Regions from separate parts of the Homo sapiens genome. Here regions 2, 3 and 4 are each linked to region 1. Evidence: fine-mapped expression QTL. A gene starts in region 1. Each other region holds a variant in brackets. All regions are shown on one strand. Distances are between the middles of the regions.

Region 1 (8,109 bases):
CAAACCTGTTCTGAAGCAGGAAAAATATGGGAAGCTACTCAACTTTTTCTTAAGCAGTTACTCAATTTTTTTTTATGAGATATGAAATTTTTTTCACTGCTAGTACACTAGGTCCATAAACTTTTACAGATGAATTGTACAAAACTTTCAGAGAACGGCTAATTTTTATCATATACAAACTGTTCTGAAGCAGGAAAAATATGGGAAGCTACTCAACTTTTTTTTATGAGATAAGTATAACCTTGACATGCAAGAAAAAAACTCAAGGCCCAAATCACTACTGGGTCTTAGACACAAAAATACTGAATAAAGGTATCCAGCAGTAGAATAAGAATGTATTACCAAAATAGTTTATCCCAAGAATACCTAAAAAGTTTAACATGAAAAGTTTATCAATGTGAATGCTTATATTAACAGGCAAAGGGAGGAAAACTATCACTTCATGCAGAAAAACAAAACAATTCAATATAAAATTATTCCATGGAAGGTGGGGGGGCCCCTTAGCAAATTAGGAAAAAAGAGAACTTTCTTATTCTGATCGAGGCTATCTACCAAAACATCCTACTCAATGACAGCAAACATCATACTCAATGATGAAACATTCGGAGAATTTTTATTAGGCACAAGATGAAGACAGTTGCTATCACTGTTTTTATTCAATACTGTACTGGAAGTCTTAGAGAAATTCAGTAAGATAAAAAGAGGCCTAAAGATTGGCAGAGGAAAATCCATCTGTAGAACAAATAAGTTAACAAAAAGTCAAAAGCCAAGCAAGAAGCTAAGAGAAAATGTTTTTAACATATTTTAACAATAGCAACAAAAAGGAGGCATAATTAACCATACACACCAAAGAGACTTCTAAAAATACAGTATCGAGGACACATAAAGAACTTAAACATGTTTTTAAAAAACTATAGAAATGCATATAAATTATAGGTTAACAAACATAATAGACACTTCAATCTTAGATCACAGAATGAAAATTAAAATTAAAAATATAATTTGCAGCCATCACTAGGCAAAAATGAAGAAGATAATATCTCATGTTAGTCTAAACTGTAGAGAAACTTAACTCTCATAAACTACCTGTGGAACATGTAAATTAGTAGAGGTATTTTTGGAGGCAAATTTAGCATGACCTATTAAAACTAAAAATGCTCACAACTTAAAACCAAGCAATTCCACTTTTAGGTATATATCCTAGAGAAATAGCACATGTGCACAAGAAAACACAAAGATTTTCCTTGCAGCATTGTTGTATGGTGAAAAACTGGAAACCTAATGTTCTCAGAGAATGGCAATAAAATGTGCTATACAGCACACATCAAACAAAATAGGATTTAACAACAAGACCAATAAAAGAGACAAAGAAATGTTTTATATTAACAGATCAATTCAGTCATACACTGGAACACTATGCAGCAGGTAAAAGAAATGATCCATAAATAACATAATGAGCTATAAATAACATGTACAGGCTGCAAAAACAATGTCAAGAAATAAAGCTACAGAATGATGTAGTATAGTATTTTTCCACTAAAAAATTACAAATGTATATATTCACCTATATAGAATATGTAACAGTATTAAAAGGTGTAAGTATTAAAAAACACTTGAAAGCTCTGTACCAAAGTCTCCAGCGGGAGTAGGGAGGGAGAGGAGTGAGGGAACATTCCTTGTACAAAACTTTCAAAGAACGGAGAATTTTTATCATATACGAACTTTCAAGAAGGAAAAATACGGGAAGCTATTCAACTGTTTTTATAAGTATAACCTTGACACGCAAGAAAAAACTCAAGGTCAAAATCTGGATTGTGCTCTTTATCTACAAGGTACCAATTCTGTAAAAGAATGTAAAAGTGTACTTAATTTTTAAAAATTAAGTATATATAAATGTTCAAAAAGGAATTCATTTTAAAGCTTTTTATAGCATATTGTCAAACTCTCTTCCAGAAAGGTTCTACCAATTTATACTTCCACCTAAGCACACTCAGTAATAGTTTTATTTTTTTTTAGACATGAGGTCTATGTTGCCCAGGTTGGTCTTGAACTCTGGGCTCAAGTGATCTGCCAAAGTGCTGGGATTATAGATGTGAGCCACCCACCGCGCACGGCCATAGATTTTTTTTTTTTTTTTGAGACGGAGTCTCGCTCTGTCACCAGTGCAGTGAGAAGGGTGCAGTGGCGTGATCTCGGCTCACTGCAGCCTCTGCCTCCCGGGTTCAAGCGATTCTCCTGCCTCAGCCTCCCGAGAAGCTGGGATTACAGGGGCCCGCCACCACACGCCCGGCTAATTTTTGTGTTTTTAGTGGAGACGGGGTTTCACCACGTTGGCCAGGCTGGTCTTGAACTCCTGACCTCAGGTGATCCGCCCGCCTCAGCCTCCCAAAGTGTGGGGATTACAGGTGTGAGCCACCGCGCCCGGCCCATAGCTTTGTTTTTAAGCAGCTCTCACCAGCGTTCACACCTGAAAATTTGAAAACTGAACGTGCACAAGTAAAACATGTTTCCTGGAGAAAATCTGCAAAATACAATAAAGCATAAAGGAGAAAATTTAAACACCATCCCATCATCCAGAGACAACTGGTGTTAATATTTCAGAGAGTAAATGGGCTTAAAAAACTTTTTTCCCCTTCTCACTTTTTCATTTTGGTAGAAAAATAATTAAGCCAGTCTGCTTTGCTTCAATGTATGGTTCCTTTTCGTTTCTAAAACAGGCTTTAAAAACACGTTTACCATTTCCTCTCGGCTCCTTACGTTTTAATTGTAACGACAGAACCACGGGTTAAGTCACGCTTAAGAACCACGGGTTAGTCACGCTTCTAACTACTTCACGTGTTCTTATTTAATCCCCCTAACAGTCATGTGGGTTAAATTAGCAGCTCGTTTGCTGATGAGGAAGCTAAGGAATGCCATACCGTAAGTGGCAGACACGAAATAAGGAACCAGGCAGCATGGTTTCAGAGCCTATGCTTTGGTTACTCCATTTGACCTCTTCAAATTTACTCCTCTCCTTGGCCTCATGTGTTAGTATTTACAGAGCTCACTGCAGGTTTCCACATGCCAAAGAGCACAGTTAATTACATATCTTTCCTTACTTAATTACTTATTGGGCTGTGGCTGATAGCGAGTCAGAAGTGTTACTATCTAATCTGAACTCCATGATCTTGGATGAATGACTGAACTTGCTGTATTTAAGGGCTCGTGTAATCTTACCTGTGAAATGGGCTAGTGGTTTAACCTTCAAGTTCTGCTTCTGGGTTTTATACTGCTGTCCATTTCCTGCCGCCCCTTTGACAACCTCAGGTTCCCAGCAGCTTAGGAATCACCTCTCATTAAGGCTGCACCCTGAGACAGACAGGCTGAAATGGAGGTTGGAAACTCAGTGCGCCCGCGGCCCCTTCTGCAGCCAGGACTGCACTTGGGTGCCAGGAGAAGGGAGGCTGCAAGGGCTGGGGTCCAGCCCCTGCTCGGGCGGCCGAGGGCTCCGCGGCGTTTTCAGCTCCTCCAACCTCCCGGCTAGAGGAACTGTCGGGGGCCAGCCACGGCGGTGCCTTGGTTTCACCTGGCTCCGCTGCGTTTTCTACGCCGCCCGCCTGACCTGAGGAGTGAGCTCCGCCAGCTCCGTTGGCAAGGCTGGGTTCCTCCGCGGGTGGGGCTCTCCTCCGACGCCAAGCCGCCCAAACCTCCCGAGCGCAGGTGCCCTCTGGCCGGGAAGTACTTCACCATTTACTAGCCTTCATCTCAACCACAACAGTCCCGCCCTGCCTCTACCGGGGATGAGGGAAGGCGTAACCTCCGCCGGGGACCAGGCCGACCTACCTAAACCGATCACTACATGGGAGGAGTCGGACGCCGGCCGTCCCACCACCCAGCCAGGAGCCCATTGATTGGTCGCACTCCCCACTGGTTCACGCCTCAGAGACTCGGCGCACTTACCGCTGGCACCGCAGTGGCGCCCGAGCGCGCCGCCTCCCGATTGACTGCTAGCGCTCTCGGCTTGTCTCGCGCACTGTAGCTGAGCCAATGGAGTTACTCGTAGTCGAGAGGCCGGCATCACTGGAGTGGTGGCGCAGCTGTTTCCTCCGGTAGGTGTGAGGCTGCCATCTTGTGTGTGGCTGGGACTGGGCTTCTTGGGGGTTGAAAACATACATAGCGCCTGGCCGTAGTGGAGGGGTCCGGAGAGAACAATGGGGTAAAGGAGAGGCCTAAGGGAGGAGACCCAGCGCCTTCCTACTTGCGGAAAGGATGGGTTTCCTGGGCCTGAGTCTCATCCCTGGCTAGAGAGAGCGAGGAATGGTGGTGGTGGTGGTGGTGATGGTTGTGGTGGTGGTAATAGTAGGGATCCCAGGTTTTGGTTTGTTGATCATTGTGGGGGCTGGGCGGGGCCTTTGATGCCTTAACATTGGTTCCTGGGAGCTCTTTTAGTAATTTTTGTCTCGCAAAGATTCTGACCATCAACCCCCTTTGACAAAGGAGGCTAGCTGATGAACTGCCTGATTGAGAAAGGAGCAAAGCTAGTAGTGGAAGGGGAGTGCCTCTCTACTATCCTCAGGTTCAGAAGAGACCTCCTCTTCCGTCCTTTTCGAGGGAGCGGCTGCTAAACAGTTTGCTCTTCGCGGGGGTTACTTTACTAAGGCCATCCTTTGGTAATAGTGGGCGTCAAGTTCTGCGTTTGGGCAAAATTGTACATTAGCGGGCAGCCAAGCATTCCTGCAGCTGTCTTTTTTTTTTCTTTATTTTAAGCTAGAAAGTGGTGGTCTTGCAGAAACGGGGCGTGAAGGAAGAATTTTGTCAAATCTTGATTTCCCCGATAACGATATGTTGAAGATTATAAATCTCTGGGTCTGCCATGACATGCTTGGTCACTTCATGGAGCAGGAGGAGGCTTTGTTAGGGAAAGCACCTTAATTTCTGAGCTCTTTTTGGGGTAGGAGGAAGAAGACAGGACTTAACCTTGTTTCCCTCCTCCTTTTTTTTTTTTTTTTTTAGCATTGTTGTGGATGGCATTGCATTGTCTTTCATTTGAGGGGAAAATGTATTGGATCTGAAGACCAAGCTGATGAAAGGCTAATATTTTGTGGTAGATTTTAGCAGTTTGACTTGCATGAAAAGAAAGCCGATGTATTATTGCCTTCAGCTTAGATTTCAGTTATTCAAGATTAACTGATGAACAACCTAATCAACAATACATGATAAAGACATCTCGCATCAGGAATACCAAAAAACAAAACAAACAGCAAAATAATTGATGTTTTTTTTTTTTTTTTTTTTTTTTTTTTTTTTGAGATGGAGTCTCTTGTCGCCTATGCTGGAGTGCAATGGTGCAATCTCGGCTCACTGCAACTCTGCCTCCGTGGTTCAAGCGATTCTCCTGCCTCAGCCTCCTGAGTAGCTGGGACTACAGACACCGGCCATCACGCCCAGCTAATTTTTGTATTTTTAGTAGAGATGGGGTTTCACCATGTTGGCCAGGCTGGTCTTGAACTCCTGACTTTAGATGATCTGCCCGCCTCCACCTCCCAAAGTGCTGGGATTACAGGTGTGAGCCACGGCACCTGGCCTGAGAATCATTTTTCTTAATTACTTGATTCCATGCTTGTATCTTCCACTTGACTTGTATCTTCCAGTTGGCTTGTCAAAATGCATGGAGAAACAAAAGTTCATATACCTTTTGACCTTTTCTAAGAAACTTGTAAGGAAATAGAGATAGAATCAAAGCTTTATAATCACAGTGTAATTTTGTTCTTGTGAAAAATTGGAAATAACAAATATCTAATGGTAGAAGAATGGTTTTATAAATTATGACACATCCCATCATTATATTTTTCAGCCTTTTAAAAGGAACGTTTTCAAAGAGTAGTGGCATAGGCTGTTGAATGACATAGGAAAGTGGTTACCATTTTGTGTTAAATGAAAGAAGTATAGAATAGTCATTGGGAAAATGCAAATTAAAACCACCGTCATTGGAAAAATGCAAATTAAAACCACAGTGAGATACTACACAACCTCTTACTCAGAATGTCAAAACAAACAATACATTTCCTGGCAAGGATGCAAAACAAGGAGAAACCTTAGTCTTGCTGGTGAGACTGCAAATAGTACAGCCACCTAGAAGACAATTTGACAGTTTATTATAAAATTAATCATATCCTTATCACATGATCTGGCAAGCCCACTCTAGATTGAAATTTACCACCAAGATAAGAGAGTTCCAGTAGTTTTTCATCCTTGTCAGCACTTGGCATTATCAGTTAAAATATTTAGCCTTTATATGAGGTATGATGGGGTATCTCATTGTGGTTTTAATTTCCCCTTTGATGATTGTATGCTTCTCTGATGAAAAGTGAAATGAAAACCTATATTGGCTGCTCTGCAAATATTTATAGCGATTTTATTTGTAATGGCCAAAACTGGAAACAACCAGATTCCACTAGGAAATAGATTTTTTTAAACTCCAGCATGTCCATACAGTGTAACATAGGAACCTCCTTTTTATTTTCTTTAGAGATGGGATCTCGCTATGTTGCCCAGGCTGGAATACAGTGGCATGATCACAGCTTACTGCAGCCTTGACCCCCCAGGCTCAAGTGAACCTCCCTCCTCAGCCTCAAGAGTAGCTGGGACTATAGATATGTGCCACCATGCCTGGCTAATTTTTTGGAGAGATGGCATCTTGCTATGTTGCCCAGGCTGGTCTCAAACTCCTGGACTCCAGTGATCCTCCTGCTTTGGCTTCCCGAAGTGCTAGCATTATAGGCATAAGCCACTGTACCTAGCCGGGAACCTCCTTTTAGTATATAGTTATATAAATATATGGGAAAAGGGAATATATATATATATATATATATACACTAAATCATTATAAGAAAATCATCAAAATAAGCCATAAAACATTGCACGAGATTATGAAAACATACCCCAAAAATGTGGCCACAAAGCAGATGAAAATGACAATCTAAATATTTCAGAGTAAGCTAAGAGAATTTAAGGAAAAGATGAAATCTTTGAAAGAACCACATAAATTCAGAAATAAGAGCTCAGACATGAGATACGTAGGAAGTTCTAGCCAGAGCAATCAGGCAAGAGAAACAAAAGGCATCCACATAGGAAAAGAAGTCAGACTATCTCTCTTGGCTGATGATCTGATTGTATACCTAGAAAACCCTAAAGACTCCACCAAAGGCTCTTGGAACTGATAACTTCAGTAAGTTTCAGGATACAAACTCTGTACAAAAATCAGTAGCGTTTCTATACCAATAATGTTGGAGCAGAGAGCCAAATCAAGAATGCAGTCCTGTTTACGATAGCCATACACACACACACACACACACACACACACACACACACACACACACTGCCTAGGAATACCTCTAACCAAGGAAGTGAAAGATCTCTACAAGAACTACAAGACACTGCTGAAAGAAATCATTGATGACACAAACAAATGGAAAAACACTCCATGCTCATGGATTGGAAGAATCAATATCATTAGAATCGCCATACTGCCCAAAACAAGCTACACATTCAGTGCTACTGAATGTGTAGCTTGTTTCAAATTATACTTTGAGGCTACAGTAACCAAAAAAGCATGGTACTGGTACAAAAACAGACATATAGGCCAATGGAGCAGAATAGAGAGCCCAGAAATTAAGCTGTACACCCACAGCCATCTGGTCAACAAAATTGACAAAAGGAAGCAATGGAGAAAGAACTTCCTATTCAATAAATGGTGCTGGGATAACTGGCTAGCCATGTGTATAAGACTGGGCTTCTACCTTACACCACATACAAAACTGGACTTCTACCTTACACCACATACAAAAATCAATTCAAGATGGATTAAAGATTTAAATGTAAGAACTCAAACAGTAAGAATCCTAGGAAAAAATCTAGGAAACATTCTGGACATCAGCCTTGGGAAAGAATTTATGACTAAGTCTTCAAAAGCAATTGCAACAAAAACAAAAGTTGACAAGTAGGACCTAATTAAACTAAAGAGCTTCTGCACAGTAAGAGAAACTATTAACAGAGCAAACAGATAACCTGCAGAATAGGAGAAAATATTTGCAAACTATGCATCTGACAAAGGTCTAATATCCAGAATCT
Region 2 (8,109 bases), 31 kb after region 1:
AATGAAATTTTGTGGTATGTAAATGATATCTCAATAAGGCTATTTTAAAAATTGGAATATAAAGTGCCCACTATCTCAAAATTAACTATTCAACACTAATCAGGAATGGATTACTATCCAACCATTATCTTAATCAGGAGTGGATTGGGTTCAGATAAGAGCCAGTGAGATTTTAGATGCCAACATAAACTGTGAGATCTAATTCAAATATCTATTTAGGCATCAAAGAGAAACACCAAATTACTATAGACTAACATTTGCTTGGTTCTATGTAGAAGATTTTGAGATTATCAGTTTTCTTTTTCTGCTTCTAACAAGAGCATCAGGATACGTAGGACCTCTTGACCTTCTCTTACATCTTACCTAATTCTCAGTGTGTGTTTTTCCTCCTCAGTAGGCACATTAATAATAATAATCTTAGCTAATATTTATACAGTGCTCACTGTGTACCAGGCACTATTCTGAGTACTTTATACATTAATTCATTTAATCCTTATAATAATCCTATGACATAGGTATGTTATTTCCATTTTACATATGAGGAAATAGGGGCCCAGAGAGGTTAAGTAATTTGTCCAGGCACCTTGTAAGTTGCAGAGGCAGTACGTGAAGTCAGGTAGGAGGCTCCAGAGCCAGTTTTCTTCATGACTAGATACTCCGTTACATAGTGCCTACAGGTCCAGGGGAAGAAAGCACTGTCTCCTTGTCAGCATTGTTCAAACTGTGGCTTTCCACTCACTAGTAGGTCATAAAATCAGTTTGCTGAGCTGTAATCCACAGTTTAAAAATATTAAATTGAATAGCATAGACAATATCAGACTGCATCAGATGTGGTAAGAGCAGTTGTTTTGTGAAACTTTTGCTTTACTTGCACACATGTTAGCTTGTTACTGGGGTTTTTGTGTTAGCCGTATTTTTTGTTGTGGGTCAGGGGCAAGGTTTGAAAGCACATTCTGTAGAAGGGCAATAGTTCTTCTATTTGGAATCATAGGCCACTGGCTCTACTTTTTCTAAAGCCAGTAACAGAGTGACATGTTCTGTCCTCACTACAACCCAGTTTAGTTGCACCTCCCCATCCATGAACAGTGAGACAGTTGGGGTAAAAGCAAGACTTTCCAGAAGATGTGGTTCAGCATAAATGCTCTTTGCTTGTTAGGAAAGTCAGTAGTAAAGTTGAACATGTCAGAGTAAGCCTGAGTGAGCTTCTTTCTGAGAGAAAGCATTATTTGCTTTGTAGGACAAAAAACACAATGAAAACCAAAAAACTCCAGTTCTGTCTTTATGAGCTTCCCCACTCATCATCTAAAAGTCAGCACTTCCTCTCTGTTTTTCCTTATGATTAGAGACAAAAGGCATAGTAGAAAACAGGAAAGTAATTTATAATTTTTAAAAAATTAGTTGGAGATTTATTAACAAATATTTGTTGAGTGCCTACCGTGTACAAAGCATTATTTTAGGTGCTGAGGATGAAGCAGTGAGCAAAACACACCAACATCCTGCCCTCACAAAGCTCACATTCTAGTGTCACTAAAGTTGTTCTGTATGAGGTCCAAATCAGCACCCTTCCTGTGCCCTTAAAACTTTACTCAACATGGGGTTATAATGGAAACTCAGAAGTCTATAGGCTTCACCAGTACCATAGTGTAGAGTGTATAGATCATAAATATATCAGAGCCCACATTTTTAATTTTATTTTAATTTAATTTTTTTTTTTTCCAAGACAGAGTCTTGCTCTGTCACCCAGACTGGAGTGCAGTGGCACGATCTTGGCTCACTGCAGCCTCTGCCTCCCAGATTCAAGTGATTCTCCTGCCTCAGCCTCCTGAGTAGCTGGGATTACAGGTGTGTACCACCACACCCCGCTAATTTTTGTATTTTTTTTTTTAGTAGAGAAGGGGTTTCACCATATTGGCCAGGCTGGTCTTGAACTCTTGACCTCATGATCCACCCACCTCAGCTTCCCAAAGTGCTGGGATTACAGGTGTGAGCCACCGCGCCTGGCCACATTTTTTATTTTTTATTTTTATTTTTAAAATTTCTAGAGACAGGGTCTCACTGTGTTGCCCAGACTGGAGTGCAGTGGCATGATCTTGGCTAACTGCAGCCTCGACTTCCCAGGCTTCAGTGATTCTCCCACCTCAGCGTCCCAAGTAGCTAGGACCACAGGCACGCACCACCACACCCAGCTAACTTTTTGTATTTTTAGTAGAGATGGGATTTCACCATGTTGGCCAGGCTGGTCTCGAACGCCTGACCTCAAGTGATCCACCTCCACCTCGGCCTCCCAAAGTGCTGGGATTAAAGGCATGAGCCACCGTGCCCAGCAAGCCTACATTTTTTTTTAATGCCTACTTAATGGCGAAACAAAGCTGCTCCTTTTTTAAAACAAATTTTCCACTTATAAATGCTATTGTAGAAAATTTGATTGTTACAGAAAATTATAAAGAAGAAAAAAGTAATCTGTAGTCTTACTACCCAGAGAAAATTACTGTTAAAATTTTGTTGTATTTCCTTCTAGTCTTTTATCTATATAAAATTATGCATGTCTCTGTACACACACACATAGTTGTATATATATAATATTTATGATTTTAAAATGAATTTGAAGTATTAGTCCTATTTCTTGATTTTTATTTAACATATTTTATTATGTGACTATATATGGCACTTAAAATATTTTTATATGTCTATAATATTCTAAGATGGTAGCATAACATAATTTATTCAACTGTTTCCCTTTTGTAGATACTCTTGGCTTTCCTTTGTAAATAACATTGCAATAACATCATTTACCATCTAGCCATCTCTATTTTCTCAGGATAGCTTTTTGTTAGTAGAATTGATATGTTAAAAAGCATGAATATTCTGGTAAATTGTTTTCTAGAAAGGTTCCTGGGGATTTTGTTCTACTCAGCAGTATACAAGATTCTGTCTCACTACATTCTTCTAGTTCTTATTTAATTTTAAGAACTGTTGCTGCCTCTATTTCTTGAAAAGAATGATTCATTTTTTATAACATTATGCTTCTTTTTACTAAGGCAAATCTTTCATCTGCAGTTTTGACTCTATCCCAATGGAGAAATTGTTAATCTTTTAGTAAGCATTAAGAATTGTATAGAAAATGCAGAATTTGTTTGGAAGAAAAGCATGGATAATTCATTTGTGATGAATGTTGACTCCACAAAGGGTTTGTTCAAGTATTTGGAGACGGTTGTTAAATTGCCTTTTAAGGAGGTATGTCCTTGCCGTTGGAAGAGTCTCTGTTTTGTTGCAGTTTAGGATGAGTTAGGAATACATATTTGGAACTAGAAGAGATAGAGTTTAAATTTTCTGTTTAAAAAAGGGAAGAAAAACTTGAAAGGCACAGGGAAAATCCAGCAGGAAAGGAATAGGAACTCTGGAGAAATGCTATGT[C/T]GTGTATTGTGACACTTCACTGTGACCTCACATATAAAAACTTACAAAAGCCAGGAAATACTTGGTGTATCTGGATTTCTTGTAGAAGCCAGTTAAAAGGGTGAGTATTGGTTGAAATGGGACCAAAACGTGTTGGGCCAAGTGTACAGGGAATAGCTTTTTACCTCTCTCCAGGCTTCTTCCTTTGACAACAAATATATGTGCCCTCCCTGTCCACCACTCCACCTCAAAAACTTCCCTATGTATTTCCCTTTTAACCACAATTTTCTTTTCTCCCATTTCCCTACCTCTCTTTCCGTCCCTTTTCTACTTTCATTCCAGTCTTTGCATTTTTGCTAAAAAATTTTCCTATGCTGGGATATTGTTCCTTTTTCTATCTCACTATATCCAAATCCTAGTACTTTTTCAAAGTGCATCTAAATTCCCATTTCTTAGGTATTTGCTAACAAATCCTCAGGAAATATGTTGTTTTAGAAGAATTTATAAAGTCTATGATTTTTGTACAATTAAAAAAGTCCCATTTCTTTCACTTACTCCTTTTCTTTCCTCACTTAGGTAATCTCTATATTTTACCTTATGATAAAATACGGTAAAATATACCTTGGTCCCTTGCATATTTCTTCTTCCTTTTGTATTTTCTTCAAAACTTTGTATTCAGGTGTAATGATTTTATATAGATAGCTAAGGTTTTTTGTTTTGTTTTGTTTTGTTTTGTTTTCACAAAAGTTGTACAAGCTCCTTGAAGACAGATCTTTTATCACAGACCTCTTTTGAATTCCTTAGAGAACCTAGTATCACACTAGGCTTCTGAAAACACCAATCAAGAGTTGCTTAATGCAGGGGTCCCTTACCCCTGGGCTGCAGACCTGTACCTGTCCATGGCCTGTTAGGAACCGGGCAGCACAGTAGGAGGTGAGTGGCTGGCTGGCAAGCATTACCATCTGAATTCCGCCTCCTGTTAGATCAGTGGCAGAATTAGAGTCTCATAGACAGCACAAACCCTTCTGTGAACTGTGCATGTGAGGGATCTAGGTTGCAGGCTCCTTATGAGACTCTAATGCCTGATGACCTGAGATGCAACAGTTTCATCCCGAAACCATCCCCTGCATCCCAACCTCCAGGTCCGTGGAAGAATGGCTTTCCACAAAACCATCCTCTGGTGCGAAAAAGGTTGGGGACTGCTGGCTTAACGTAATTGAGTAATAGTGGAGAATTAGTGAGATTTAGCCCTCAAACACATTGGGTATCCAATGCATATCCAAAGGCCATAATGTGCAGTTAATTTGAAAATGAGTTGCATGTGTAAATTTTCAGAATTATTGATAACATTGTATTGAAAACAATGACAGATTTTGCATGTTTATCAACTGTGAGAAACCAAAATATTTAAAATGAAAAAAATGCTTATTATTAGGTTGGTGCAAAAGTAATTGTGGTTTTTGCCATTTTTTTTTTTTTAAATGGCAAAGGTAAATTTTATTTATCTGTATTATTAGAATAATACAAATAATCACTTTATGGCTTTTTTTCCAAGGAGAATTAACATTGTGTTTTTAAATTCTGATTTGTTTATGTTATCAGTGACTAATTTTAAAATAGATTATAAGATAGCAAAACAAAAACAAAAAACAACACCCTCACCTACCTGTATGTCTATATATAGAGAAGTGGTTAAACAAACTGTAGTACAGCAATATTAAGGAACACCAATTTGTGCTGAACCCCTATCAACTCCAGTGGGGATGGCACCAGGTTCTAGAGGCCAAGGAGACCCAGAGCCAGCAAAGGAGACAGAGGGTTTTGGGGGGAGTTTACATACAGGGAAGAGAGTCCAGTGGCAGTGGGCTAGGCAAGAGAACCAACTGCTTGCAACAGTCATGCAGTTTACATAGCATTTTCACTTAATGCCTTCTCCCTAACAACCTCCACCTGGTAACCTTCATTTAACCCAAAACAAAGGACCTCGATCCCTTCTATGCCCTGTGTTCCATGAGCCAGGCTGGGGGCTCGAATGTTCCTCATAGATAAGGAATGGGTCTCCAGCTTATCCCAGATTCCTTAGCTCAAAACTGTGAACCACATTCAGGGTCATCCTCGGGATATACTTAAGTCGAGTTTTCAGTGCCAAGTGCATCTACTGTGCAACCATGCAACACTTTTAAAAGAATGAGATAGAGCTACCAAATGTAGAGAAATCCAAGATCTACTATAAAGAAATAAAATAAATTATAATGCAGTGTGTATAGTATTATCTCATTTAAAAAATTATCTTGGTGTGTATTCAAACAAATACATACATCTACGTATGCCTGGAAAAAGGGTCTGGAAGGATAGCACTTTGAATAGTGCTTAATCTTGGGGAGGGGAATTAGAGAAGAGGGAGGTGGGGGATTTTCTTTTTTTTTTTTTTTTTCTCAGGAGAGTCTCTCTCTGTTGCCCAGGCTGGAGTGCAGTGACGTTATCTCGGCTCACTGCAACCTCCGCCTCCAAGGCTCAAGAGATTCTCCTACCTCAGCCTCCTAAGTAGCTGGGATTACAGGCACACACCGCCATGCCCAGCTGATATTTTGTATTTTTGATAGAGACGAGGTCTCACTATGTTGCCCAGGCTGGTCTCAAACTCCTGGACTCAAGCAATCCACCAGCCTCAGCCTCCCAAAGTGCTGGGATTACAGACACAAGTCACCACACCGGGCTGGGATTTTAAAACAATAGAGAAGCATAGAAAATAAAAAATACTTTTTTAATGGACATTTAATTTAAAATTAAAAGATAAAAAGACATGTTTAGAATGAGTACAGCTAGAACAGTGCACTGGTTTGTATTTTATTTGTAAAACAAGATGCCATTCTGTGGTTATAGTTATTAAAACTAATTGTTCTGTGATTAATAGTTATTAAAGGATTATAATCATTTCTCCTATACTAGATCATGTTTTATAAGTCTTCAGATTTGTGGTAAAATATGTTTTATAAATGGAACCCACTATAATTACTGGATGAATTCCATAGAGATTTTTCCATTCAGTAAATTACCTGAATATGTTATATTGCAAATGCTATGTGTTTGTTTGCCATAAATGGCTTTGACTTTGAAAATTGTCATGTGAAGTACTTTCATTATTAAAAAGCATTATAACTCTGTAGAAAGAGATACTTTGAGACTAGTTTCTCTTGACATTTTAAACCAAGTTATTTATAACTCAAGGTTTTCTGTCCCTTCACTCAGCCTGCTTCTTTCTTTGTCCTTTCTTTCTGTGTTCTCTTTAGATCCTGTTTTTCTTCTTGGCTTCAGAGCACCAGCTTACAAGTTGTACTTTTAAAGATTTATAACAGTAATAATATGATTCTCCAACATAAAATTTTTGTATAGTTCTGGTTTCAATAATTTGTAGAAAAGTGAAAATTTGTAAAAACTTGGAAAATTGGAGTATGACACACCTCATAAAAAGAGAATGTACATCAGTTCTCAACAGGGTGGGAATTGTTCTTTTACTAAAAGGTATCTTATGTTCTTAACTGACTTGAGCAAGAACTTTTCATAAGCGTACCAGTTGTGGAGAAAACAGAACATGGATCCAGCAAAGAAGGACAGGGAAATATGAGAATTATTAGTATCACCATCTGCCTGTGGTTATGGCACTAAGCCCATTTTGTTGTTATGATACTAGCTGTATATCGAATCTTGGGGCTCCAAGATCTGTTTCTTAACCTCATCCTTTGTTATTCCTTAAATTGGGCAGTTGGTGGAAAAGCATAGCATGTACTTAGCGTTGTTATATTGTTTAGATATAAGTGGAATTGTGTGGATATAAGCGGAACTTTAACTGTTAAACTTAGGATTTGGTGTACATGAGTCACACCTTTTAGCTTTTCTTCTTACTGTATTTATGTGGATTTTTTTTTTTTTTTTAAATAGAGAGAGGGTCTCCCTATGTTGCCCAGGCTGGTCTTGAACTCCTGGACTCAAGGGATCCTCCTACTTCCTGCCAGACTGCTTAGGATTACAGGCATGAGCCACTGTGCCCAGCCACATGTGGGTTTTCTGATAAGACCAATTTTCACTCTGCTCAAACACATATTCTTTTACTCTACCTTTGTTCTCTTCAGATGATGGTGAGTCCTGCTTTTCTGAGAAAATTGAAGTAAACCTGTGCTTCCTAACTTCATTCCTCTTTCCCTGGGCAGTCTCTACTAATGCTTTCTCCTCCTTCTCATTTTAGAAAAATATATATTATTCCACTTATGTTCTTGATCCCTCCCATTGTGGGCTCAAAGATCATGCCCCATTAATTATCCCTTTCTCATCTTCTACCTTCCTCCTGTCTGTCCCACTCAATCTACCAAGAGTTGAAAGGTTTTTTTTTTTTTTTTAAAGCAAACAAAAACCTCTTTTATTAAGCCCTTCAAGCTGTCCTTCTAGTCTTTATATCCAACACTTGGAAACAGTAATATACGTTCATTTCTCTATTACCTCATTCCTAACCTCTTATAATCCTAATCCTATTGTTGTGTCAGGTACTACTAAGTCTCCAATCTCCCATACAGTGTTCTAGGCATGGCATGGCAGAGTTGGGTTATGCATGCTGCCTGAATCAGAGCCAGTGTTACCAGTTTCCCGGAAGGGCTGGCCTGGAGTCCTCTGCCTGCCTCATGCTTTGCTGTACTGCTGTATGCTCTGATGGTCCCTGCCTGT
Region 3 (8,109 bases), 100 kb after region 1:
CTTTATTTTACCAAATGCTTATGGTTAATATAATGTAACAATGACCATAAATCACTTTTTTTTTTAAAGTAGCTGGTTTCAAAGGGTTTTGTTTGGTTGGATGATTGACTTGATTTTGGCATTGGTTTTGGGTTTTTTATAACCTCCTAATCTTTTTGGTTTTGAGCTCTTAAAGGGACTGTTGCTCAGTTTAGTTATTAATATTGTAACATTGTTAGTTTTTTATTTTGGCATAGATTTGTCTACCAAAAGTCTTTTCCCAAAAAGGATTCCATACAACCATAATCTCTTTCATCCCTCCCTCTAAAAATTCCCATAATAGAAGTGGTTTGAATTCTGTCTTTCTCTGCCACCTGATAAGCTGGATGTCCTTGAGCAATTTAGTTAACCTTTGAGTTTTATTTTCCACATCTGAAATGAAGAAAATCATCCCTTTTTCACGGACTTGTGAAGATCAGAAACCGTATTTGCAAAGTGCTCGGTACACTCCCCAGCACAGTCAGCCCTCTAAACGGCAGCTGTCGCTGGCTCCTCAGCCTTTTATGTCCCTGCAATTAAGTGTCTCTCTCACTCTACCCCAAGTTTCTCTCAAGCAGTATTCATTAAAAATATAGATATCAGATTTTTCAGCATAATATACTATGCAAAACTTAGGCCTCTCAAAACAGAATTGTTAGGAGGTAGGATGAAAGAGTACACTATTTGAATTAAGGTTTTTAAATTCTAAATTCTTTGGAGTTTGAACTTTATTTTCCTTCACAATTTTCTGTCTTTTCCTTCTTGGGTAGGATCCTAGCTGTTTTTTTTGTGGTTTCTTTTTTTTTTTTTCACTCAGTTATGTGATCTATAATGCAGCAATTATATTTGTCTATGTATTATGTGTACATAAGCCTGTGTGTATGTATATGTGGTTTGTATATACATTTATTATGTACATAAATTTGAGGGTATATCCATGTATCAATCCCATTACACACTGGAGTGGAAATGTGGGCGTGAGAGAGGGAATGTGTGCATTGTTTATTGGCTGTATCCATGATATATATATATATATATATATATCTAGCATATATATATATATATATATCTAGCATATATATATATGCTGGAGGAATTCTACCCCACCCTATTATGGTTTCCTAATACTGGATTTTCAAGCTGTTTCAAGGTTTTCTTGCCTTGGAATTTGAAAGTGTTGGTTTTAACCTAACTCCCTCCTGATCCCTTTTTCTTTGGGGTAACACTAATGTATGACACAACCTTTCAAGGCAGCACTGATCTGCAACCTGCTCTTTTTGTTGCCACTGGGGCTGTGTGCGCTGGGCCTGCAGTGTGGGGAACCCAGTCCTCACTTTCAAGGCTGACGATAGTTGAAGCAGGTAGAGAACTCCCATGGGTGCAGCAATCCACAGTGTCTGCTGCAGCCCATAGAGGGGGCTCCCTCTGCCCTGGTTCAGCTCAGAAAATTTCTATTACTGCTCATGGGGTTTCTATGATGTTAGGGGAGGGATGCTTGAAAGCATGACACCAATATTATCCTTTAAAAAAAAGAGTAGGGACCTCAAAGGATCTTGTGGAACTACCTTACTCTTTCAAGGGTCCCCTGATGCAGGAACTAGTTTGAATCAAGACCTTTGACGGGGTGGGAACGGAACCCCTGTAAATGGTTTTCCATTTTAGAACTTCAGTTCCAGAGTGGTAATGAATGCTCTGCTCCACTGGGGGGGAAAAACACCATGTTTCCACTGATAGGCCCAGTGGTTGATCAAGTTGTGTGATAGCAATAGGGAATTAAGAGCCACTCTTATTATTTTTGAATTTGAAAATTATAGTACACAATGCTTTAAATATTTTACTTTTTAAAAAATTAAAGTAGAAATAAGTGGGTTTTATTATGGTTGTTATCTGCCTTTTCTTTGTGAAGTTATGTTGTGTACCTTCTATATGCTTTTAGGAAATTTTAATTAAATATGTATTAAAAGAATTTATTTTGGAAAACTTTAAAATTCTTGTTATGTTTTTAATTAAATTTTTCATAGCACCTAGACAGGGCATTTAGCCTCTAAGCATATAAAAGGGATTAAGTGAGGCTTGTTTTCCTACAACATTAAAGTGAGTTAAGGATATAATTTAGGTATGAGTTGAAGACAGTCAAATGTTTCTTCATGCTTTGTTCAGTTTTCTGCAAGTTTATATCTGCCATAAGATAGGGCTACTCATCTTCAATTTTGAAAGGATGGATTGTGCTACTTAGTAACTTGCACAACACCTTACATCCCATTAACCCAAGAGCAGGAACAATACTGGTTTGACACTGCTAAATGTCAGTCCTACGCTTCCAGTATCCGAGGCGCCCATTTTAAAAGTGGTTAAGGCACTTTGGGAGGCCGAGGCAGGTGGATCACAAAGTCAGGAGATCGAGACCATCCTGGCTAACACGGTGAAACCCGTCTCTGCTAAAAATACAAAAACAAAAAGCCGGATGTGGTGGCGGGCGCCTGTAGTCCCAGCTACTCAGGAGGCTGAGGCAGGAGAATCGCTTGAACCCGGGAGGCAGAGCTTGCAGTGAGCTGAGATCATGCCACTGCACTCCAGCCTGGGTGACATAGTGAGACTCCATCTCAAAAAAAAAAAAAAAAAATTAACTCATCTCAAGTTCCATTTGTTTCACCAGTTAAATTATTTCTATCATAAATCTAACAATATGAATTTGAAACACTAGGTTTAACACCAGAGTTTTTCTTTTCTAACATGAAACAAACTTGTATTTCACATCTTAGGCTAAGCTAGGAATGGAAATAATTTTGTGGCGCAAATGAAAATGTTCTTCTGCAACTTTTATATGTTCTTAAACCTTAGAAAAGACACATTTGTAATATTAATAGCTATAACAGTTTTGTTTCACTTGGTTTTTCTTTTTCTAGGATTTACTAACCAGACATAAAGTGTTGGTAGCAGACTTCTTAGAACAAAATTACGACACTGTAAGTAGAAATCATTTTTAAAGACTTTCCCACTTTCTCTCTCCCTCCCTTTTAGATCTATGAGCAATTGCCCCTGTGAATTATCCACAAGAGAAATCAGTCGCATTCAACCATACTCCTGATTTGTCTACCTGGAAAC[C/A]AGGTCATCAGGAAACTTTATGGAAAATTGAGATGGCAGGAGGTCAGGGCTTTCACCTTTTTCACATCTCTTCGTGTTGTGCTCTGAAGCTCAATAAATGACTAGCACCTGCTTGCTTTGATGTTGCAAATCAAAGGAGGCAGTAGGTAACTCCAAAAGGAAGAGAACCCCACCCTCACTAAAGTACATCATTTTACTTGGTTGATAATTAGTCTTACTTAGTAGTAAAAATACCAGAAATATTTTTTATCTTGCAACTCCCTTCCCTGACAGTGAATCCAACTCATCCTTTTGAGATTTGGTTGAAATATGACTCTTTAGAAAGCTTTCCCTAATCCTACCCCTCCCAAAACATGCATCCTTTCTCTTTCTCTCTCTCTTTCTGTCTCTGTCTCTCTCCCCTCTCCTCTCTCCTCTCTCTTCTCCCTCCTCTCCCTCCTCTCCCCTTCTCTCTTTCTTCTCTCTCTCTCTGGCTCCCTCTTATTTTTCACCTTGTATTATTATGGTGTGTCTGTATCTTTCTGGCTGGCCCTTGCACCCCCTAAGAGGCAGGAATCTTATCTGCAGGACACAGGGTTAAGAGCACAGTATGGACTTTAGAGTCTTCGTGCTTGCTTGGCTTCAAGACCTGCCTCCTTAGTGGCCCTGGGCAAGTTACTACACCCACTGCAAAATGAACATAGTAATAATACCTGAATCATAGGGTTGTTGAGGGAGTTTGACGGGATTTAAAGTTTTCAGCACAGTACCAGAGTAAGCACTCAGTATTAGTTTTTAATCGTTGTTACTTGTTTTCCTAATGCCTAATGCAGTGTCATACATTTGGTGGTGACAGATCCATCCAAAAGCAACGATACTTTTACTAAATGTGTAAGCAATAGAAGCAGCATTATACAGTAAAATATAGCTCAAACCTAGAAGGAAAACTTTGTATGTTTTGTTCTAGTGTTGGTTCAGATGCTCTACCTCAGTGCTGTCCAGTAGAAATATAATGCCAGCCAGAAATGAGAGCCACTATGTAACTTAAAATTTTCTAGTTAGCCACACAAAGAGGTAAAAAGAAACAGGTGAAATTAATTTTAATAATATACATCTATTTAACCCAACATACGAAAAATGTTATTTTAATGTACAATCAATATGGAAAATGATCATCGCTTCTCGGTCTTTTGGCTAAGATGAAGTGAAAAATGATCAAGCTATTTTACATCCTTTTTTCATGCTGAGTGTTTGAGATCTGATGTGTATTTTACACTTACAGCACATCTCAGTTTGGACTAGCCACATTTCAAGTGCTCAGTAGCCGCGTATGGCCCTATGTTGGACAGCATGCATCTAAACTAGGACTTAGGGAAGGGGAGTCTCTGATCCTCATCCTAGCAACAGCCACAGTTATTTTTTACTGGGATTTTTGGCATTTTTACATGTGTTAGTTAATGTTACTACTCTGTCTCCATCACCCAGTCTAGTGCCTGACACCTAACAGCAAGAATGTAATCTGCTGTCTTAAAGCAGCACTTAACTATTTGTATTATTGATGCCTAAACCAAGAAGTTCTAAATATTTATATATATGGTATGATGAATGGATTTTTTTTGTCTTCATCTATTAAAAGCAAAAAACAATTTCATGTGTATATGATATTTATGGTAGTAATAAGTAAATTAAGGTAAAGTATCTTTATTGATTGAAATCTTTAGTATTAAATTAAATTACATGTGCTTACAAAAAGAAGTACATTTTTGATGATTACTATGACTTTATGCCTTCCCAACAGTATGCAGTATAGTTGGGCACATAATAGGCATATGGACCAGTGGTAGCAAACAAATATTAATAATAGTCCTCAAGGAGTCTCTGAATCATTTATATCCTAGACAAAGGTTGCAACATACTCCTGAATACTGGGAAGGTGTGGCCTACTCTGCCTATCAATAGTATATCTTCACACATTCAAATCACAAATATTTAACTACTTCTCTTTTAATTATAAATAAAATAAATTTTATTTTTGCCAGTTGTCCTTCAATTTAAGATTAGGAATTAGCAATATAATTATAAAATCAAAAGTGATTTTTATGTCCTCATGTTATAAAGGAAATAGCCACAGAATCAACTAGAGTATTTGTTTTAAGTGTAAAATGTGAGGGGAGGATGATTTTTTAAATTGATACAAAATAATTATACATGTTTATGGGGTACATCAGATATGTTGATATATGCATACAATTTGTAACGATCACATCAGGGTAATCAGGATGCCCGTCACCTCAAATATTTATCGTTTCTTTGTGTTGGGAACTTTCCAAATCTTCTCTTCTAGCTATTTTGAAATATACAGTAAATTATTAACTATAGTCACCCTACTGTGCTGTTGAATACTAGAACTTATTTCTTCTAACTGTATTTTTATACCTGTTAACCAGTCTCTCTTCATCTTCCCTCCCTCCTACCTTCCCCAGCCTCTGATAACCTCATTCTACTGCAAGGAGAATAATTTTTATTGCTAGAGGCATCCCAAAATGTATAGACTGAAAGAGGCGGGTGGATCACGAGGTCAGGAGTTCAAGACCAACCTGGCCAAAATGGTGAAACCTTGTCTCTAATAAAAATACAAAAATTAGCCAGATGTGGTGGCGGGTGCCTGTAATCCCATCTACTCGGGAGGCTGAGGCAGAGAATTGCTTGAACCCGGGAGGCGGAGGTTGCAGTGAGCTGAGATCACATCACAGCACTCCAGCCTTGGCATCAGAGCGAGACTTGGTCTCAAAAAAAAAAAGAAAAAGAAAAAGAAAATTGTCTATTTTTGAATTTAGGAAATGAACTGTTAATATATAGTTTGGTTGTTCAGTAACTATATATGCTAGATGGAATGTTAAGGAAAGATTCATTAGATGTCACATTTATAAGAAATAAAATTTTTAAAAGGCTAAGATAACGTGGATAAATCTACAATATCAACTAATTACTATTTTTTCCTATAGAATGAATGAGGTAAATGTGTTGTGCAGTAATGCTTTGTGTTCAGGTATAATACATGACAGTTTGAGAGACTAATAAATTCATTCTCTTTGACTCCTTTTTTACCTAATTTTGTTTTTACATCCATATATCACTTCTTGTGTAATTTAGTAATTTCACAGCTGCTGAAGCTCCTGCATTGGCCTGAATGCGAGCTCTGAGAACTCATGCCCCTTCAAACCTTTCAGACTCTTTCAGCTGATATTTCTTTAGCAGTATGCCATGAAACTGGAGCACATGATGCATGACTCTAAAGTAATAAAGCTGGTGGACTCGGGAGTAGGTCATACCACATACATGTATTTGCATTTTATATTTACTATTCAAATTTATCACAAGGCTTGTCTGATGCATTTAATGATCCACAAAATTCTCCTTGTGTTTCAGGATAGAATAAATAAGTCATTCATATTAAAGAGTATAATTACTGTGATTTTAATGTGAGCTACACCTTTGTATTTTTACTTTTCACTTTATTCTCTATCGGTGATTGTCAGCATGCACAGCTTGCCCTCATTACACAGCGGCACACACTCTCCCCTCGCACTTGACTCTCCGAGGGCTAGGAGTTTGTCACCCTCTTCAGTTCCTGATCTCTTGTCCTCCGTCCTGGCTGCGCTCATTCCTCCCACTTCAGTGCTCTATGAGCTGTGTGCCCACACCTGATGGAAGTGAATGCTGAACCTCCCCAGATGCCAGCACTCTGTGTTAAACTGAAGGGCTAGGCCATGGTTGGTGACCATGTTAGGAAAGAAGACTTCGTGCACCAGTGTCCCCAGCTTCCGGTGAGAGTGAAGTGCTCCAGAGAGACTAGTTGGGCCGTCATGCAACAAAGGTTGCCTCGTTCTTTATCTGTTTATGCAGTGAATTGAACAGTCTGATTCTTTATGGCTTGCCAAGTGAAGCCTTAAGTGTATTTAATATTTTCCCAAATTGTGGACCCATAGCCACCAGCAAGGCTACTTACATAAAGATTTCTTTAAAATGGCATAAAATGAGTTCTCTTGCAACTTTTACTAGAAGTTTTATTCAAAATGATTTATTGGAAGGACTCAAAATTACTCAGTTTTTATCTAATTTGCAGAACTAAAATAAAATAGGGAAGGATGTCTCTTGTAATTCTTGACCTCCCTGTCCCCCAGTGTCTTCACATGTAAAGAAGGATGGTAAAATGGCCAGAAGTTGGGAATTTGCTCCTGAAAAAGAAAGCAAGCCAGCCTAATACGGAGAATCCACTGCTGCTTTTACACTCTAATGTGTATTTTCTTTTCATTAGATTTTTGAAGACTATGAGAAATTGCTTCAGTCTGAGAATTATGTTACTAAGAGACAGTCTTTAAAGGTAATATCAAATTTCTTTAAGTCAGTGTCCCCGTAAGTTTATATCTCATTAGCAAATGACGGGTCTATTAGTATATGAGTAAACACAGAAAAATTAAAATATCCTTTTTTTAAATAACTTGAGAAGTATTTACTATATTTTATGTTATGACTGTATTTTATAGCAAAATAATGTAAGTGTCCTGTCCTGCTTTTGGAAGTAACAATATAAGTACATGATAAGTAAAATTTAGAATATTTCTGCTGAGGCCAGGCATCTTGGCTTACGCCTGTAATCCCAGCACTTTGGGAGGCCGAAGTGGGCGGATCACCTGAGGTCAGGAGTTCGAGACCAGCCTGGCCAACATGGCAAAACCCCATCTCTACTAAAAATACAAAAATTAGCTGGGCGTGGTGGTGGGCTCCTGTAATCTCAGCTACTCGGGAGGCTGAGGCAGGAGAATCGCTTGAACCTGGGAGGTGGAGGTTGCAGTGAGCCAAGATCGTGCCAATGTACTCCAGCCTGGGCAACAAGAGCGGAACTCCATCTCAAAAAAAAAAAAAAAAAAAAAAGACATGTAAAATGCAAAAATTAAACCTTCCCTCTAAGTTTTAAGCACAGCAATTGATAAATTCTTAATATCT
Region 4 (8,109 bases), 150 kb after region 1:
AGTGCTGGGATTACTGGTGTGCGCCACCGTGCCCAGCCCTATTTGCATGTTTAATATGATTGTTCTTCCAGAGGTTTCCAAAAGATTCCCTGCTTAAGCGTGTAGGATATCTTTTAAAAAACCCAAACCAGTAGAACTTTCTGGGTCCACTAAGTGCAGCCCATGGTGCCATTATAATAGTACCAGATCTCTGTGAAGTGGAAGAACTGAAAAAACATGTCCCTGTATTTGTTGGGAGGCCAGTTCTTTTCTGTGTACCTTTCATTCATTTTCATGAATACTGATGTATGTCCATCTCCCCAACTAGACGATAAGCTCCACGAGGGCAGGGTTTGTGTCTGGTTTTCCTCACCACTGTAACTGCACTCCTCACAGTGCCTGGCTCATGGTAAGCTAAGCCCTGGCAAATATTTGTTAATGAATTGTACCATGTTCAAAAATAAACAACCTGGAGAACCTCTGCTGGTTATCATCATGGGTGAAACAAAGTTGGTCAGGAGTTACGATCTGCCACACAGAAGCCTCCCGGCTCACGAGCTTCCATTTCTTGCAACTCAACAGCATCATACACCACAGTATTTCAGACTTCTCGCTTAGCTCTTGTTTTTGTTTTTTTCTAACATTGTGAATGTGCGCACACACTACACAAGGTACTTCAAGCTGTTCAAGCCACCCCCAGCCCCTCATGCACATTAGGCAGAGCCAGGCTGTTTCCATTCACTCCACAGGAAGTGAACTCCCCCCAGCCTCCTCCCTCCACCTTTTGTCCTTGGGATACATCCCCGGCCCGGGCCTCTCTGGGTACGGGTGTCAGCACTGGGATGAACTGTGGTTTCTTTCTCGTTCATCCTGGCCTGGACCCCAATTTCTGAGAATCATGGGGTGGTGGGAAGTATTCCAGGAAAGTTCTGGCTCATGTCCTTCTGGAAAGACATGTGCTTTCCCTAACAAATCACTCTGTGCTACACTCACCAAAGGAGCTCCTGTCCCAAGATGGGCTCACTTCTTTCTTTCTCCTTCCCAAGTGTTACGTGGGTTTAGATATAGACATTCAGGGGCGATAAGCTCATTTATGTATCATAGTGTCACTAAAGATAGAGTTCATGTTTATAGAGTGTTGGTACCATTCATTGACCCAGAAATAAAGCTAACTTGGCCAGGCGCGGTGGCTCATGCCTGTAATCACAGCACTTTGGGAGGCAGAGGCAGGAGGATTGCTTGAGGCCAGGAGTTCAAGACCAGCCTGGGCAACATAGCAAGACCCCTGTCTCTACAAAAAATAAATAAAAAATAAACTAGCCAGGCGTGGTGGCACGTGCCTGTAGTCCCAGCTACTTGGGAGGCTGAGGTGGGGAGGACCGCTTGAGCACAGAAAACAGTCAAGGCTGCAGTGAGCTATGAAGGCACCACTGCACTCCAGCCTGGGCAACAGAGTGAGACCCTGTCTTGAAAAAGGAAAGAAAAAGCTTCAGCAGCAATACAATGAAAATACACACACCTGCGTATGTTCTGCATGACTGGGATGAAGGAAGCCAGGCAAATGCTTACACTTAGCTCCCCTCACAGTAGCATATTCTGTGGCCACTTAGGCAGTAAACAAATGGCAGAGCTATTTTTTTTTTTTTTTTTTTTTTTTACAAATTATGAACTTACCATCATCCTCCCATTCTTTGAAATTTAGAAAGACATTGTATTTTTTGTTTAAGTGTAAGTTCTGATTTCTCAGGCTAAGGGATGAAGACTGGGAATTTATAGATCTGGGTCAAAAGTGCCCCACAGAGCTTCTCCAAACCCAGGCGGGCTCCTGGGGTGGCTCAGCAGTCTGTCTCCATCACTTTTTCCCAGAAATTTGTCTCATTCCCACTGTTTACCTGGCAAACCCCTGGATCCCCTCAGGCCCCACCTCATCACCTCTGCCTCTACAGGGTCCTTTCCATGACTCCCCAGAGTGCTGGTAAATCCTCGTGTGCCCCCACTGTTCCTACAGTTACATCCACAATGGCAGTTCTCAGCCTTAAAGGTCACCAGAATCACCCGCAAGGTCGTGAAACCCCAGCTTGCTGGGCCCACCCTGAGAGGTTCTAATTCAGTAAGCCTAGGGAGCACCCTAAGAATATGCACTTCTAACAAATAGTCTGCTGGTCCAGAGACATTTTTTTCTTTTCTTTTCTTTTAGACTAAGTCTCGCTCTGTTGTCCAGGCTGGAGTGCAGTGGCATGATCTCAGCTCACTGCAACCTCTGCCTCCTGGGTTCATGTGATTCTCCTGCTTCAGTCTCCCAAATAGCTGGGATTACAGGCATGCAATACCATGTCTAGCTTTTTTTTTTTTTTTTTTTTTTTGTATTTTTAGTAGAGACGGGGTTTTACCATGTTGACCAGGCTGGTCTTGAACTCCTGACCTCAAGTGATCTACCCCACTCAGCCTCCCAAAGTGCTGGGATTACAGGTGTGAGCCACGGCACCTGGCCTGAGAATCATTTTTCTTAATTACTTGATTCCATGCTTGTATCTTCCACTTGACTGTGAGTGTCTTAAGATCAGGAGGCATTTCTCACACATCTCATCCCCGCAGTCTAGCAGTGTTTAGCAGTCATTCAATCAATAAACAAATATTTATGGAATGCCTACTGTGTGCCAGGTACTGTTCTAGACACTGGGGTTCAGCAGTTAAAAAGTACACACACACACACACACACACCTCCCTGCCCTCATAGACTTCACCTTCTGAGGCTACACAGTAAACCATCAATGATTATTTATTGAAATCTGACCAGTTGTACAGAAGAAAAAAAATGGCATTATCATGCCTCTCTTAATAGTACTGTGGAAATGCCTATTTTTCCCTTTCTAATCACAGTTTTTCCCACTTGTATGCTTCTTCCTCTGATATCCCATCCCAACACCCAACAGGCAAATCCACAGACCTGGCAATATGCCAGGATTTTGGGTCTTACAAAATATTTACTGATTGATTTATAAAATGTTTGGTGTACATGACATGTTAGTTAGAAACAACAAATCCAAGAGCTGAAGCATGAGAGTTAATACAATAAAGCAATTTGGGAGGTAAGCAATCTCAGTGTTTTTATACTGATAA[G/T]AATATCTTAATTCACGGTTTTCAAACTAGCCTTAGTTACCTCTAAGTGTACATCACCTCCTCTCCTGTCCTATCCCATGCCCTCCATCTGTGTAGTGTTTATGGCAGTTCTTGGCTGCCTTGTATGATGACTCTGAACTCCCCATGGTCCTACACAGGCTGCAGTCACAGCCCTGGCATGGAGCCAATGTTTGGATGGTCGTGCGTGTAATTCTGAGAAACTGGTAGGAAGCCCAGTGAGGCCGTGTGATGTGGCGGAAAGGCAGGGAACAAAAGCAGAGGCAAACCTGACCACCGCAGATCCAGGAAGACATTTCTCATGAAGCACCCCAGGCCACCCCTCTCTAACCTAGGAGAGAACAGAAAATGTACCTTCATTTTTGGAATAATTTTCTGAATGTTTCTCAGCAAATAAAAATGTGAGAAATCACAGACAGCAATCTGGAATAGCTGAAATGACCATACTTTCAAGACTTTCAGTATTTATTCTTGAGGTTGGCAAATGTTTTTAAAAGGCTCTTCCTTTTGAAGATCAAAGCCATGAGACAACCTATGTTAATTATACAGAAGGGAAGACTATATGGGGGAGCAGCATTTATTAATGGAATTCTAGGAAAGCTAGTTTCAATATTCCAGACTCAAATATTTCTTCTCTGTTAACATCATAACCAAATTTGAGGTTCACTGTTAGTGATTTCAAGAGTCAGTGATATCAAGCAGCGACACTGTCTCAGAATAACACTCTCTTCCTATTGCTACCCAAAGTCTGTGATAAACAGGACCACAGAATTAACATTTACAAAATATACTTTAAAAATGGAGACAAAGTCCACTAACTTTATTTTTATGAGTCAATTCTAATTAAGTAAATTCTGATTACTAGAAAGCTTTGGGTATAAATGTGATCTTTTGGTTTGCTATACACTGACTCTTAAAAGATGACACTTATTTCCCTGGAGCAGTTTACTAACTGTCACTCTTGTAATTCAAAAGAATTAATATTTCTCAAAAGGTGTGTGATTCCCTGCAGAGGCATGACCTCTTGTGAAGCAGACCCTTTCAAATTGGCTAATATAAAGTCAAGATAAATAGAAATCAGTCCCTGTTGGTGATTACATTGGTTGAAGTTATTGCTCCCTCATTTCGTGTAATAAAATAACACACTACTACATTATGGAAAACCCACACATAAATCTAAAAGACAAATATTCTTATTAACACCATTTGTATCCTAGAAATAAATTAGCTTCCTTAAAAAATCTTTTCAATTATTCACAAAATCCATCCTTATTTTCTGAATGAACAAGGCTGAATTTTAGAAGTGCAATGAAAAGTTCTTGAGGTTCCCCTGCAGTGTAGACAGGCCTTCTTAGTGGATTCCGAGGCGCAGCTTCTTGTCCTGGTGCTGCTCTTCCTTCTGTGGGACAGGTCTCAACACACCATCTAGCATTGAGAATAACGCTAGGTCAGGACAGCTTCATTTCAAACCCATGGGCACTTGTTTCAGCCTTACATGTTGTAAGAGCAAAACAATGCTTAAGTTAAAGGAACTTTCACTTTATTTTATCTTCAAATTCTCAATTGTAGAGAATCCAATCTAGATAACTTACTCTCAGGCAATACAGAATCTGGCTTTTAAAAACTGGATTCACATTGGCCGGGTGCAATGGCTCACGTCTGTAATTTTAACACTTTTGGAGGCTGAGGAGGGAGGATAACTTGATCCCAAGAGTTCAAGACCAGCTTGGGCAGCATAGGGAGACCCCATCTCTACAAAAAAAATTTTTTTTTTTTAAACAGGTGTTGTGGCGCACACCTGTAATCCCAGCTACTCAGGAGCCTGAGGTGGGAGGACTGTTTGAGCCCAGAGAGGCCAAGTCTGCAGTGAGCCATGACTGTGCCACTGCATTCCAGCCTGGGTGACACAGCGAGACCCTGTCTCAAAAAAAAAAAAAACCAAAAACTGAATTCACTCAACAGTGTACGGCAAGTAATTCATAAAACTTTTTGTTTTATGTTTTTGGTGGGGGGACGTCCTATTACTAGACTGGAAGAAATAAAATGTACCTCCTAAGGGAGAAGGGGACTGTGTGTGGGGTAGGGAGAATCTGGGGACTGGAAGGAAGACGGACTTATCTGACTGGGCAGGCTGGGAAAAGAGTATGGCTTCAACCTCTTCCTGGCTTTTGTGTTTAATAGCTTTATTTGTACAATAAATGATACATGTTTAAAGTATGCAATAAACTAAACATAAAGTGTATAGCTTGATGAATTTTTTTAATTTACTTTTTGATTTGTAATATTTGTAGAGATGGGGTTCTCAGTCTGTTACCCAAACTGGTCTTGAACTCTTGGCCTCAAGCAATCCTCCCACCTCAGCCTCCCAAAATGATGGGATCACAGGAAGGAGCCATTTTGCTTAGTCCAGTTTCATGATTTCTGACATAAGTACACATTCATGAAACTATCCCCACAGTCAAGACAATGAACATATCTATCACCTGCAAAAGCTTCTTTCTGCCCCTTTCTTCCCATCTTTTGAGGGATTTCCTGCCCTGAGCCTGTATGTTCTGCCCTGCTGTTTCCTTGTCCTAAGGACACCTGGGCCAGGGCTCAGACTTGCCTTCCAGAGGTAGATCTGGAAAGCCACCCCTCTCTCTTTCTTGTTCTCATCATATCATGTAATATTTGAAACATTCTCTCTCTCTATATATAATGTATTATGTAATATATAATAATACATACATAATACAGATGGGAGTTCTAAAGCCTAACAATAAAATGAACACTCATGAACTTACTGCCCCAAAAGAGTTACAGTTTGTTTAAAACTGAATAAAACTACATTATGTGTGTTGGGGGGAGATGGAAAAAAAACAAAACATACTGCCGAATCCAACAACTAGAACATTATCAATTCCCGTGCGCTCCCTCTCTCGTCCCATCCCCTTTCACCCCACTCAGAGGCAACTCCTATCTTGATTTTTGTGTTTATCAATCGATTGCTTCTTAACAATAACTTTACTGTATATACTATATATTAAAGTATATTTTATTTATTTATTTATATATTTTTTGAGACAGGGTCTGTCTCAGTCTGTTACCCAGGCTGGAGTGCAGTGGTGTGATCTCAGCTCACTGCATCCTCAACCTCCTGGGCTCAGGTGATCCTCCTATGTCAGCCTCTGCGGTAGCTGGGACTACAGGCACAGGCCACCATGCCAAACTAATTTTTTGTATCTTTTGTAGAGATGGAGTTTTGCTGTGATGCCCAGGCTGGTCTTGAACTCCTGGGCTCAAGCAATTGGCCCGCTTCAGTCTCCCAATATGCTGGGATTATAGGTGTGAGCACCATGCCTGGCCTACCACATTTAACCAATATATGGTATGTCTTTTTGAACTTTATACAGAAATGGTATCATAATTCTGTAGTTTGCTTTGTTAAATTCAACATTTATATTTCTAAGATTCATCCATGTTGAAGAATGTAGCTCTAGTTCATTTGTTTTCACTGCTATATGGTAGTCCATTGTGGGAATACACCATAATATTTTTATCTAACCACCCAAAACAAACATTTGTGTTATTTCCAGTTTTTGCTTTTAAAAACAATATAGCAACAAATTCTTTGTCTCTCTGACTCTTATACAATATGCAAGAGTTTCTCTAGGGCATACGCTTATAAAAAATGCTATTTCAGGCCAGGCGTGGTGGCTCATGCCGGTAATCCCAGCACTTTCGGAGGCCAAGGCGGGCAGATCACCTGAGGTCCAGAGTTTGAGACTAGCCTAGCCAACGTGGTGAAACCTCGTCTCTACTAAAAATACAAAATTAGCTGGGCATGGTGGTGCATGCCTGTAATCCCAGATACTTGGGAGGCTAAGGCAGGAGAATCTCTTGAACCTGGGAGGTGGAGGTTGCAGTGAGCCAGGATCACGCCACTGCACTCCAGACTGGGCGACAGAGTGAGACTCCGTCATAAAAAAAAAAAAAAAAAAAAAAAAAAGCAAAAAAAAAGCTACTTCCGTGCAATGTTAATTTGCATTTCTCTGACTACTAATAAGTTTAATCATCTTTTCATGTGTTGATTGGGTGAACTAAGTTCAGTTCACTCACCTTGCAGCAGACCCAGACCTGATCTCAGATCCCAGCTTATATGGACATTTGTCCCCAGGATAGCTCTGGCTATTGTGTTCGCTTACTATTGCTCCTCAGATTCTAGCAAAATGCCTTCTTATCTCTATTTTGTTCTTAGGAGAATATTTCTCTTATTTTCTTGAAAGCTCCATGACTCTTTAAAAAGAATGCTTGTTATGGGTTACCTGGGTTCCATTTGCATGGAGTGGAAGGGCACTTGAGAGTTGTCAGTCACACTGCCTGCCTTCCTTCTCTGTTTGTCCCTGCTACTGGCACTGAGAGAGTATCCAGCAGCAAGTCCCCCTCTGAGTTAGACAGACTGATTTACCCAAAAGTCAAGCCCCAGTCTAACAACAAAGCTGGTGTTGTAACTTTCATCTGTTGATTCTGGTGTCTATTTCTCAACTGAATCAAAAATTGGAAAGGAATTACATACTGTATGATTCCATTTATATGAAATGGCCAGAATAGACTAATCCATAAAAACTGAAAGAGTGGTTGCCTAGGGCTAGGGGGAGTGAAGAATGGGGAGTGACTGCAAATAGGCATGAGACTTCTTTCTCAGATAATGAAAATGTTCTGAAATTATGTTGTAGTGATGCCTGTACAACTTCGTGAATCTACTAAAGAAGCAAATTTATGATAGATGAATTACATATCAGTAAAACTATCATATAATTAAAAAGGAAATGGGGTATTGCTTACTGAGATCAAACACTTGTTCAAAAATGCATAAACATAAACTTAACTGTTCAGTTGAACTGTCACAAAGCAAACATATGTAACCATCATCTGGGTCAATAAATAAAACATTGCCAGCAAACCAGAAGCCTTCCTTTTGTCCCCTCCTTCCAATCTTGGGGCTTTAACCAC

What was found. PIP is the estimated chance that this variant, and not a neighbour inherited with it, causes the effect.
Region 2: its variant is fine-mapped to the expression of CAB39L in testis (GTEx, PIP above 0.99).
Region 3: its variant is fine-mapped to the expression of CAB39L in whole blood (INTERVAL, PIP above 0.99). The same link has a PIP of 0.9 or more in T cells, amygdala, anterior cingulate cortex, blood mononuclear cells, caudate and cerebral cortex.
Region 4: its variant is fine-mapped to the expression of CAB39L in cerebellum (GTEx, PIP 0.92).

What each region holds. Positions count from the first base shown.
Region 1 is chr13:49,439,965-49,448,073 of GRCh38, reverse strand. CAB39L (calcium binding protein 39 like) reads left to right here and starts at 4,010. Exons shown (of 11, transcript NM_001079670.3): 1 at 4,010-4,088. It overlaps SETDB2-PHF11 (SETDB2-PHF11 readthrough), which reads right to left and starts at 3,800. Exons shown (of 21, transcript NR_135324.2): 1 at 3,217-3,800. It overlaps SETDB2 (SET domain bifurcated histone lysine methyltransferase 2), which reads right to left and starts at 3,800. Exons shown (of 14, transcript NM_001160308.3): 1 at 3,217-3,800. RefSeq lists enhancers at 2,647-3,420, 4,103-4,182, 3,421-4,193, 4,563-4,632 and silencers at 3,893-3,942, 3,614-4,094.
Region 2 is chr13:49,409,129-49,417,237 of GRCh38, reverse strand. All of the region lies in intron 3 of CAB39L (calcium binding protein 39 like), which reads left to right. Among named protein-coding and RNA genes, the nearest start is that of CAB39L, 31 kb to the left of the region's middle. The variant C/T (reference allele first, on the strand shown) is at 3,415.
Region 3 is chr13:49,339,054-49,347,162 of GRCh38, reverse strand. CAB39L (calcium binding protein 39 like) reads left to right here. Exons shown (of 11, transcript NM_001079670.3): 8 at 2,925-2,984; 9 at 7,421-7,486. Among named protein-coding and RNA genes, the nearest start is that of CDADC1, 95 kb to the right of the region's middle. The variant C/A (reference allele first, on the strand shown) is at 3,124.
Region 4 is chr13:49,288,117-49,296,225 of GRCh38, reverse strand. It overlaps CDADC1 (cytidine and dCMP deaminase domain containing 1), which reads right to left. Exons shown (of 10, transcript NM_030911.4): 10 at 2,741-4,542. The coding sequence ends at 4,469. Among named protein-coding and RNA genes, the nearest start is that of CDADC1, 44 kb to the right of the region's middle. The variant G/T (reference allele first, on the strand shown) is at 3,100.